Homo sapiens: one gene and its partners. The protein of the gene in region 1 interacts with the protein of each later gene in a biochemical or structural test. Each region holds a gene or a part of one and is shown in the gene's direction. Other genes may lie near its edges.

Region 1 (3,650 bases):
GAGCAGAGAAGTCATATCATCTGCTTTATGTTTTAAAAGGATCATGCTGGCTGCTGAGTAGAGAATAGAGGTTGAGGGATAAGAAAGTAGAAGGAGACCGTAGCAAGAAGAACGATCATGGCTGGGAGCAGGTGATCATATTGGCAGTGATGAGATCAAGCAGAATTCAAAAAGTGGTTTCAAAGTAGAGGTAACAGGACTTGCTCAGTCTATTTATTTCTTCAAATAATAATCATATTTACAATGATAGTAGCTAACAGTTTTTGAGTGCTTACTGTATGAAAATTGAGATATGGTGCCAATATTTAAATAGCATATTTTACTTAACATTCACAGAAACCCTGTGAAGTAGGTTCTATTATCTCAGAAAAAGAAACTGAAACTCAGAGAATAACAAGGGACTGTGTTACGTGCACAGTGGCAGAGGCAAAGATGAATAGGATGTGAGTTTATTTGAACCCCAAATGTTTAAATCTTGGGGATAATACAACACACATTTAAACAAAGAAGCAAGAAAAAAAATGCACAACAGAAAGTGAGAAATAACACGAGGAAAGACTAAATGAAGTGCTTTGTATCTAGATGTGGGCAGGACCCTTTCCAGCTGAGAAGATCTGAGACTGGGTCATGAACAGGTGGTTTCTGAGTGGGTCCTGTAAAAATGAATACGATTTTGATGATAGTAATGAGTAAGGACATTTGAGACTGATAGAAGAGTACATACAATATGTAGTGATGGGGAAAGATAAGGTACTGTCAAAGGACAATGTGTTTTCTGGTATGACAGAGAAGTAGAATGTGTTAAGGGAAGCCGAGTACCAGAAAGATCCGGGTGTCACAGTTTGTGTAGGGTGTTTAAAGCTAAACCACAGAGTTTAATTTTATCCAATAGAAGAGGAGCCACAGAAGAGTTTCCATTTATTCATTAATTTATTCATTTATTCAAAAAATATTTGAGTGCTTATTATAAGCCAGGTACTATGCCAGGCACCTGGGATAAGACATAGTCCCTTCTGTCAAGTCTTTACATTGGGTGGATGTGGGAGGGACAGATGACAGAACAATATGCATTGAGTGTAAGTGCTATGGTATAGGAAGCTCTGAGTGGGAGGGGCATGGAAGCCGTGGAAGACCATGGAAGGCTTCCCAGGAGAAGTGACGTCTGGACTGATCCTTTGGTCAAGCAGGAGTTAAAGAGGAGAAAAGGAGAGATATGGGTGTTCCCGAGAGAGGAAGAAGCCTTGTCCCAGGAGCAAAGTGAGGGTGATTGTTCCAGAAATGTGAGTGATTCTTTTAAGGCTCAAGCAAAGCATGTGATTCTTCTTTATACCTTCTATTTCTTTGCTGAGTGTTTCTGTTCTTTTGTTTCAAGCATGCTGCAATTGCTCATTAAAGCATGTTTATGATGGCTGTCTGTTTTAAAATTCTTGTCAGATGGTTTCAACATCTTTATCATCTCAATGTTGGCATCTGTTAATGGTTTTTTCTCAATCAAATTGAGATTTTCCTGGTTCTTGGTATTACCAGTGATTTTAATTGCATCTGGAAATTTGGGATTTATGTTGAAAGACTGGATCTTATTGAAAGATTCTGTTTAGCACCCCTCCTTTGATACCACACTGGTGGGTCCAGGTTCCCCATTCAGCTGTTGACACCTTCAGGGCAGAGAGGTGGGATGGGGTGAAGGGGGTACCTCATTATTGCTGGCCCAGGTTAGAAGTTCAGGCTTCCCAGTAGATCTCTGCTGATACCACCCTGGTGCCATGTCATTCCTTGAGTCCAAAAGTCCCTCCCAATTCTGCCTTCTTCTCTCTACATATCGGAGTCTCCCTATGTTTGACTTATATATAATGTCCAGGGTTTTTAGAGTTAGTTAACAGGAGGCATAAGAAAAAGTGTGTCCACTCCATCTTGTCTGGAACTGGAAGTTCAAGTCGAATATAAGAGAGAGGAGAGGAAATTACAAGCCATGAGACTGGAGAGTTAGGCAGGTTCTACACCAGCTATTCTCAAAGCCCTCTTACACTCTTAAAAATTTAGAACTTCAAAGAGCTTTTGATTTTGAAAGTTACATCTATCAATTATTACTGTTTCAAAAATTAAAATTGAGAAAATTTTATTTATTAATTTGTTTAAAAATAACAATAATTATTCAATTACATGATAATGTAAGTAATGCTTTTCTTAATGAAAAATAATTATATTTTCCAAAACAAAAACAATTAGGAAAAAGAGTGTCATTGTTTTAGACTTTGGTAAATCTCTCTAATATCTGGCTGAAGAGAAGAATGCTGATTCTTTTTTTTTTTTTTTTTTTTTGAGACGGAGTCTCGCTCTGTCACCCAGGCTGGAGTGTAGTGGTGTGATCTCGGCTCACTGCAAGCTCTGCCTCCCGGGTTCACGCCATTCTCCTGCCTCAGCCTCCCAAGTAGCTGGGACTACAGGCACCCGCCACCACGCCCGGCTAATTTTTTTGTATTTTTAGTAGAGATGGGGTTTCACCGTGTTAGCCAGGCTGGTCTCGATCTCCTGACCTCATGATCCACCCACCTCAGCCTCCCAAAGCGCTGGGATTACAGGTGTGAGACACCGCGCCCAGCCCCCGAATGCTGATTCTTTTATCTGCTTCTGTATTCAATCTGTTGTGATATGATGGGTAGCCTCTGAAACACTCCACTGTATACTTGTGAAAGAATGAATGTGAAAAAGGAAAATAGATTTGTAGTATTATTATTCAAATTGTTTTGACCTCAGAGACCACTTGGAAATGTTTTAGGGAACCCCCAGAGGACCTTGGATCATGCTTTGAGAACCGCGGCTCTAGATATGTTACTATTTCAGTAGCATCTAAGTACATGTGGCTGCTGAGCACTTGTAATGTGGCTAGTGCAAATGAGAGACAGGACTTCCAGCTATATGTAATTTAATAAACTCAAATTTAAAAACTGGAACCTCATAAAATGTTTTGTTGTTGTTGTTAAACATGACCTTATAGTTTTGGTAGGAATACATTTCACTTTAACCCTTCAAAATTTAGCATTTGAATTGAGATATGCTGTATATGTTAAATACATGACAGATTTTGGGGACTTAGAAAAAAATAATGTAAGATATTTCATTAATAGTTTTTATATTGAGTATTTTTTGCTATGATAATATTTTTGATATATTGGGTTAAATAAAATGTATTTTAAAATTAATTTAAGCTATATTTATTAAAATCTTTAGAATGTGGATAATAGAACATTTAAAATGACATACGTGGTTCACATTTTATTTCTCCTGGAGTGTACTGCTGTAGATGAATTTAGATGATGAAGGCTTTGTGTGTCATGTAAAGCTTATTCTTTATTTTGAAGGTAATGTAGAGCCATTGAAAAGTCTGAAGTAGAGAAGTGACATATCAGATTTGCATTTTAGAAAGCTTACTCTGGCTTCAGTGTGGAGCATGGACTGAAGAAGGAACCAGTTAGGGTTAGGAGGTGATTGCATTATTGAAGGGTAGGAAGACTGTGGCCTGAAGAAAAGTGGCTAAACCAGAGACATATGGCTGGGCGCAGTGGCACACGCCTGTAATCCCAGCACTCTGGGAGGCTGAGGCAGGTGGATCACTTGAGGTCAGGAGTTCGAGAGCAGCCTGGCCAAAATGG
Region 2 (3,500 bases), about 38 Mb from region 1:
TCTTTACATGATCCAGAGCCAAATTCTTAGTATGTAAGGGTCAAGGTTAATTTTTACCTGAGAGAGTTCAGAGACTTTTATAAATATGAAAGTCTGGATATGTAACCTTGGCTGAGCATGACTGATAAGACTGAAACCAAAGCACTATCCCCCAAATGAATTTAATGCTGTAGTAGTTCTCATTTTATACTAGGGCCCCCTTCGGTTAATTTTTAAAAACAGTAATTCCTCTTGTTTCTTTTCAAACCAGGTAGGCATACCTTTTAGAATGCATTTAAATTAAATTGTATTCATTACTGTATTCATTCAATTCATAAGTATTTGTAGAACCCCTCCTATGTGTCAGGCCCTGTTCTCTGGGATACAGTGTTCAAAGAACTGACAAGGTCCCTGCTTTCCTGCAGCTGACATTATACATATTCTTCAGTTTAAAGTTGTAATTCTGGGAGATTATGAAAAAGTTATTTTTGTGAAAATGTTCACAGATGACTTCATGTCTAGGAGTTACACCAGTAGACATGTTTCAAAAAGGTTTAGTAAATTGATTTGATGTGTCAGATATGAAGTTGTTAATTACTCAACAATTTGAGAGTACTGAACTGAAATTCACTGTGTTATTTTGGCTATTTGAATGGATTCATGCAATAAGAATCCATAATCCTTCAATGAATAGCTTGTTACTGAAAAATACATGGGCCAGTATGTAAAAGCCAAATACTGTACATTGGTTTTCCATGAGGGAGCATATAGGTCTTGAAGAGGTTTGTAAAAATCAAACTATCTAAGTAAATGAGACTTATCTGACCAAGGTATTGTTGTCAGAATAGCCTTAGATTTAAAGAAAGAATAGTCACTTCATTTGTCTATAACCCAACATTTATTGATAAATAATAGTCTTATATTAGAGAATTAATGGGGAGAAAAGAATAATGCTAAGAAAATATGTAACTGCAATAATTTGTAAAAATACTTTTGGGGGGAAATTGTGAATTAAAATTTAAATTCATTTATTCATTCACTTGGCAAGTGGTTACTGAGCACTGCCTCTTGAGATCCTGGGATGGGAGTTATGGAAGACTCAAGGATGAATCATTCTTGGGTTTTAGACACTTTCCCATCCAGTAGAAGAGTGAGGGTATGACATGGGACATGACAGCACATCAGTTCAGACAAAAAGTTGAAGAATTCAGAGGAGAAGAGTTCAGGCTGTGGTGATCAGCAGAGTCTTCAGAGACTTTACGAGTTAAATCCTGGAGGATTAGTGGGATTTTACGCCATAAAAGTGGAAAAATTCTCAGGGGAATGTGAGCCAAGAACCAGAAGCAATAACACACAAAGTCACTTCAGGGAATTCCAAGAAACTAATCTATCTTGACCAGGAGGTTTTGAGTTTTCCTGTGTTATCTGGATGGGTGGTATTAAAATACAACAGCAAAATAAACAAAACAATTAGTGAGGAGATTCAAATGGAAGAAATAGTTTGAGGCAGAAAGCAATCATTGCAGTTTTAGGTGTGTTGAATTTGAGAAGATGGCATGATATATGGGAGCAAGTAGTCTCAGGCAAGAGGAAGGGCGGAAATGAAATCCTGGATTGCACCCATTCAAGTAAGATAGAGGGAGCTGCGGCAGGCTACGAGGTCTCTGAAGCAGAGGGTGTAGAGAAAATAGGGTGACATTGTAAGTTCTTGAGTATGGCTGCCTAAATCTTTGACTTCTTTGTCTTCGTGACTTGTACCTATACTCTTCTCTGTAAGCTTACCATCCTCCCACTGCCCTTTGCAGCAAATGACCTACATGATATGTTGTGGAATGCTGCTGCCTAGCAAAATACCTGGAATATAGGTGCTTAATAAATATTTTTTGAATATATAAGTGAATGAACTTTGTGTAACACAGAACTTCTGAATAAACTTGGAGATTGTGACACTCTTAATTTGATACTCTAGCCATCAAGTGCCCAGAACTCTTTGCCCCAGAGCAGGGCAGCCTGGATTGTTCTGACACTCGTGGAGAATTCAATGTTGGCTCCACCTGCCATTTCTCTTGTGACAACGGCTTTAAGCTGGAGGGGCCCAATAATGTGGAATGCACAACTTCTGGAAGATGGTCAGCTACTCCACCAACCTGCAAAGGTAATAATATGTACTTGCTAAGACAGTTCTACTTTTGGAAATTTATTCTACAACAACAAACAATTATCTAGTTCTTATATGTGAACTAGATAATTGTATATATTACCATTATTTGGGTTTAGCAAACAGCTGAAGGATTTTAAAATGTCTAAGGAGTGACAGGATATTTTTATGTTTGTGAATAAAAGGTATATTGATTCTTAAGCAGGAATTTTGTTTCATGGCTTCTTTTTTTGAAAGAGCTTTGTTGAGTGAACGGAATGGTCTCCATTAATTTATTGCTGAGAGAAACAGACAATACTGGGGTAGAGTCACTGGTCCAGTTTTTCAAATCTAGGAATTGAGGTGCAGAGAGGTCAATCATCATCTTCCTGCCACATGGCAAGTTAATGACAAAGCTGGTGGGATCATTCAAATGGAAGAAATAGTTTGAGACAGAAAGCAATCATTGCAGTAAATTTCAACTTTCACATTGACCTTTAGTCAGAGAACAGTACCATTTCCCAATAAGGCAGGGTTGGGCAGGCAGTTGGCCCATGTATATTTGGCTTTCTGCTGAATTTCTTATATTTCTGTACCATTTCTTGCTTCTTTTTAAAATAGCAACAACAATGACTCCTCTGATTTCTTCTCTTGGCCAGGAGAATCATCTCCTCAAGGATGATTTTTAATAATTTTCCTCATCTGGTTTTCTATCTCTGACACTGATAGTTTTTCTTAACTTCCTTAAATAGCTCTTGCAGGAGCCTCCCTTGTTATGAAGGGAGTGAAAAGCAGTTATTCCAGATTAGCCTTAACTCTGTTAACGCTTCTTTTAATTGGGAGGTCTCTGAATGGAAACATTTTCTCACAACAGGCATAGCATCACTTCCTACTCCAGGGGTGCAATGTCCAGCCCTCACCACTCCTGGGCAGGGAACCATGTACTGTAGGCATCATCCGGGAACCTTTGGTTTTAATACCACTTGTTACTTTGGCTGCAACGCTGGATTCACACTCATAGGAGACAGCACTCTCAGCTGCAGACCTTCAGGACAATGGACAGCAGTAACTCCAGCATGCAGAGGTAAGGTGAAAAGGAGCAGGCAGTTCTGAACCTGCCTTCCTGCAAGTACTCAAGCTAGCCATTGTGCCTGTATGTTGAAGTCTCACCCAACCACAACCACTACTCCAAGTGTCATCTCCCTTATGAAATCCACACCAATCCCATTAGAAGTAATGTGTCACAGGCATTTCACTTCTGTCCTTCCTCATGTCACAAGCTAAAGCTAATACACAAGTACTCAGAGACTTAAAGGAAGAAACATTTGCAGATGTCCAAGATGTGTTAGAAAAATAGACATATTAAATGTAAAACCTGCTATAG
Region 3 (3,500 bases), about 38 Mb from region 1:
GAATCCGGAAGATAGGAGGAATATGGACGTGGGTGGGAACCAACAAATCTCTTACTGAAGAAGCAGAGAACTGGGGAGATGGTGAGCCCAACAACAAGAAGAACAAGGAGGACTGCGTGGAGATCTATATCAAGAGAAACAAAGATGCAGGCAAATGGAACGATGACGCCTGCCACAAACTAAAGGCAGCCCTCTGTTACACAGGTAGGGAGTGACAAGACGGCTATGCTGCCTCAGACTCAGGAAGGGCCACGGTTAAGAGAATACTCAGATTTACCCCATGGAAAGGTGGGGGGATGAGAACAGCTTCTGGTTCATTCTAAAATACATCTAGCCCTCTATATAATCTTGCATCGTGTCACTCCTAAGAATTTTTGGTGTGTAAGATTTGTCCCTGTGCACAAAAGCTATACCCCTAAATCAAGTTACATCAAAATGATAGATCTACGTAGGAAGTACAGAGGAAGAGCTAGACAATCAGTGCCTTTGATAATAAGGCAGGGGAGGAGAAGCTGACAGCTGGGGCCAGTTGGAAACTTAGGCTCACATCACCTCAGTTTTCACATTGTGAAGTAGAGAGTGTGGTGCTGCGTGCTTCCTTCTTGGTCTAACCTTATATAATTTTATATAAAAATTGCACTATCTTTGGTGTATGAATATTTCTGTAAAATCTTCTACAATTCCAAAACAGCCAGCATTTTCCAAGTGATGTTTTAATAATGAACCATAGTTAATTTGGTCTCTTATAAATTGGACTCTACCGTTTTAGCAAATTTGGACTTTTTAATCTTTGATTTCTATAAAGAAAGGGATTGCCAAGAAATAATTGCATGCAGAAATGATTGAGGTCAGGTCATCATTTAACCTTCTCACTCATTAAAAACAAGTAATTTCAAGAGTTTCAAGGTATGCCACTAAGTTTCCTATAAGTGTTACAGAATATTAGTATTGGTAATTTCATTCCAAAAGCAAATAAATGCCTATGACTATATGCTTAGTGTATTTTATACGTAAAAATTTTAGCATATGATTTTTATGCTATGAATTTACAAATAAACCTTTCCTGATTATTTAAATCATCTCAGACAAAAGGTTATCTATGTCTAAAGAAATGACTTTGAGTACTAAAATGTAATCACATTAAAATATTTTTTTTCTGACCTCCTTAAAGCTTCTTGCCAGCCCTGGTCATGCAGTGGCCATGGAGAATGTGTAGAAATCATCAATAATTACACCTGCAACTGTGATGTGGGGTACTATGGGCCCCAGTGTCAGTTTGGTAAGTCTCTTTCCTTTCTTTGCTTCTTCTTAGGTAAAGTCACAGGAATCATTATAGCTTATCATGAAGCTGGTTGGAACAAAATGATACTAGCCACTCTGAGAAATGGGAAGTTTTGATCAGAAAGCTCTGCTTTCACAATATTGTTACCTTTCCGTAAAGATTTCATAAGTCAGCATGAAGTTTCGACTCACTTCTCAACAAGTCTTTTTGAGTACCACAAGAAGCACAGTGTTGGGATAAAAGCTGTCAGGGTTACCATAAGGAATTAGCATGGTAGATTCCCGCTCTCAAGAAGCTCACGATCTAATGAGCTTGTTAGATTAATTAGAACTCTAAGGTCTGGAAGAAACTATGCCATTTATCATTAGGAGGCTGAGTTACCCAGAAAGTATCTTGCTTTTTCCTTCTAGTAGTTCCTTTCCTTCTTGCAGTTCTCCACACTTAACACATGTGCTCTGTAGCACACTGACTTTGCTGGTGGCCTTCTCTCTCATTTTGCACATGGCCAAAAAACATGTCATCTTTAAGACATTGTTCAAAGACAGTTTCTTCTAGGAAGCTTTCTTAGTTCTGATAGCTCCACATATTTCTTCCTCATTTCTCCCACTTATGTTGAAGTCATCTGTTCACTTGTCCGTCTCCTCTGGTACTGAAAACTTCTTGAGATCAGTAAGTGTCCTATTTATCATTGCATCTTTGGGATCCACAAAATGCCTGTATATATGAGGCACTTGCTTGTGAGCCTGAATTGAATTGGACAATTTAATTTTTTAAAAAAGCAATGTTTGTAAACAATAAAGAATTAAAACCAAAATACATTTAAATGTCAACCAACTGAAATAGATCTATAGATCTAACTCATTTCACTTGATCCCTGGGCCATGACTCCTTCCTAATACTTTACCCTCACCCCATTTTTGAACTCTATTTTTTAACCCTTATGTTATTGGTATGCCTATTTTACTCATTTTTAATTATTGGTATGCCTATTTCACTCATTTTTAACATTTTACTTTTCTTTGTCTTGGTTTCTCTCATATCACTCTTTTCTCATTCTTTCTACCTGTGATCATTTCTCCTGAGATCCTTCATGAGCACTTATCCAGGACCATAAACTACTATAATTTCTCAGCTTTTGTCTTTTGTATATTGCTCTTCTGACTCTAATCTACATGTATCCTTTGGTCAAACTTACTGACTTTTGCGGACTCACAAATCTATGTGATCTTTGGACTGATAAGCCTATCTCCAGCTCTGAACTCAAATATGCTAAGGATGTCCTTTGGGATGTTTAAAAGACTATAAAACCAATTGTTCCCAGTCAGCTTTTCTCTTCGTATTTCTTATCTCAGTATGTGGAATCACCATTTACATGGGCACCCTGGTATGAGACTCTCTTAACTCCCCCAACATTTATGCAGGGTAACATTCTACCAATTTTTACAACTTAGTGTTTTTCTAATTTGTCTTCCACTTGTCAACTCTACTACCATTGCCGTCATTATCTTTCTTCTAGATTCTTGCAATAGTTTATTAGATGAGTTCCACAATTTTAAATTAGCTCCCCTCAAATACATTATTCATACTACAGGGAGACTGATCAATTAAAAGCAATTAAAACACATCACACATACATGACAATCCACCCATTAATTTCTACCTACCATTTTGTCCTACAGGGTGAAATCTAAGCTCTTCAAGCCCCAGAGTAATGCTTGATATATAATAGATACTCTTTAAATCAATGAAAAAAGATAACATTTTCTCTTAGTTCCCATGTTTCTCCCTAATCTCATCTCATATAGTTTCCAAATACAAAAATTCTTCTGATTCCTTGAGTCCATTCTTCCTTGAAGTCTCTAGAGCAAGGTAGCAATAATGGCTTAAATTTGACAGATGAGGAATAAGACATGAAAGTTGTACTGTTTACTAAATGGCATGGCAGGGTCTAAAATGTGAAAACTTTGATTTCCAAGTCTTAAATTTACCTATTGTACCACCAATCAGAACAGGGAAATAGATACAGTTTCTGGAGAGGGTTGTCAAAATCAAAAGAGTTAAAATTCTGGAACTGAGCTAGAATAGAAGACAGAATTGAGGTCAAAATGCTTCCTAGACTTTTATATTCTCTCCTTGCAAAGAAGGCTTATTATGGAGACCCACTCTTTCTCTGAACATCTTGCTCCCAATACTCTAGTAGACTCAGGGGCTCTGATGT

What was found.
Region 2: the proteins of CD34 (region 1) and SELP form a complex in vitro, tested with the Homo sapiens proteins (one large-scale study listed by IntAct).
Region 3: the proteins of CD34 (region 1) and SELL form a complex in vitro, tested with the Homo sapiens proteins (one large-scale study listed by IntAct).

Annotation. Positions count from the first base shown.
Region 1 is NC_000001.11:207,880,329-207,883,978, reverse strand, and holds the end of CD34 (hematopoietic progenitor cell antigen CD34 isoform a precursor), read left to right. Parts: 3' UTR 1-3,007; downstream 3,008-3,650.
Region 2 is NC_000001.11:169,595,625-169,599,124, reverse strand, and holds part of SELP (P-selectin precursor), read left to right. Parts: intron 1-1,948; coding exon 1,949-2,134; intron 2,135-2,990; coding exon 2,991-3,200; intron 3,201-3,500. UniProt on the Homo sapiens protein: Ca(2+)-dependent receptor for myeloid cells that binds to carbohydrates on neutrophils and monocytes. Mediates the interaction of activated endothelial cells or platelets with leukocytes. The ligand recognized is sialyl-Lewis X.
Region 3 is NC_000001.11:169,705,121-169,708,620, reverse strand, and holds part of SELL (L-selectin precursor), read left to right. Parts: coding exon 1-204; intron 205-1,171; coding exon 1,172-1,279; intron 1,280-3,500. UniProt on the Homo sapiens protein: Calcium-dependent lectin that mediates cell adhesion by binding to glycoproteins on neighboring cells. Mediates the adherence of lymphocytes to endothelial cells of high endothelial venules in peripheral lymph nodes.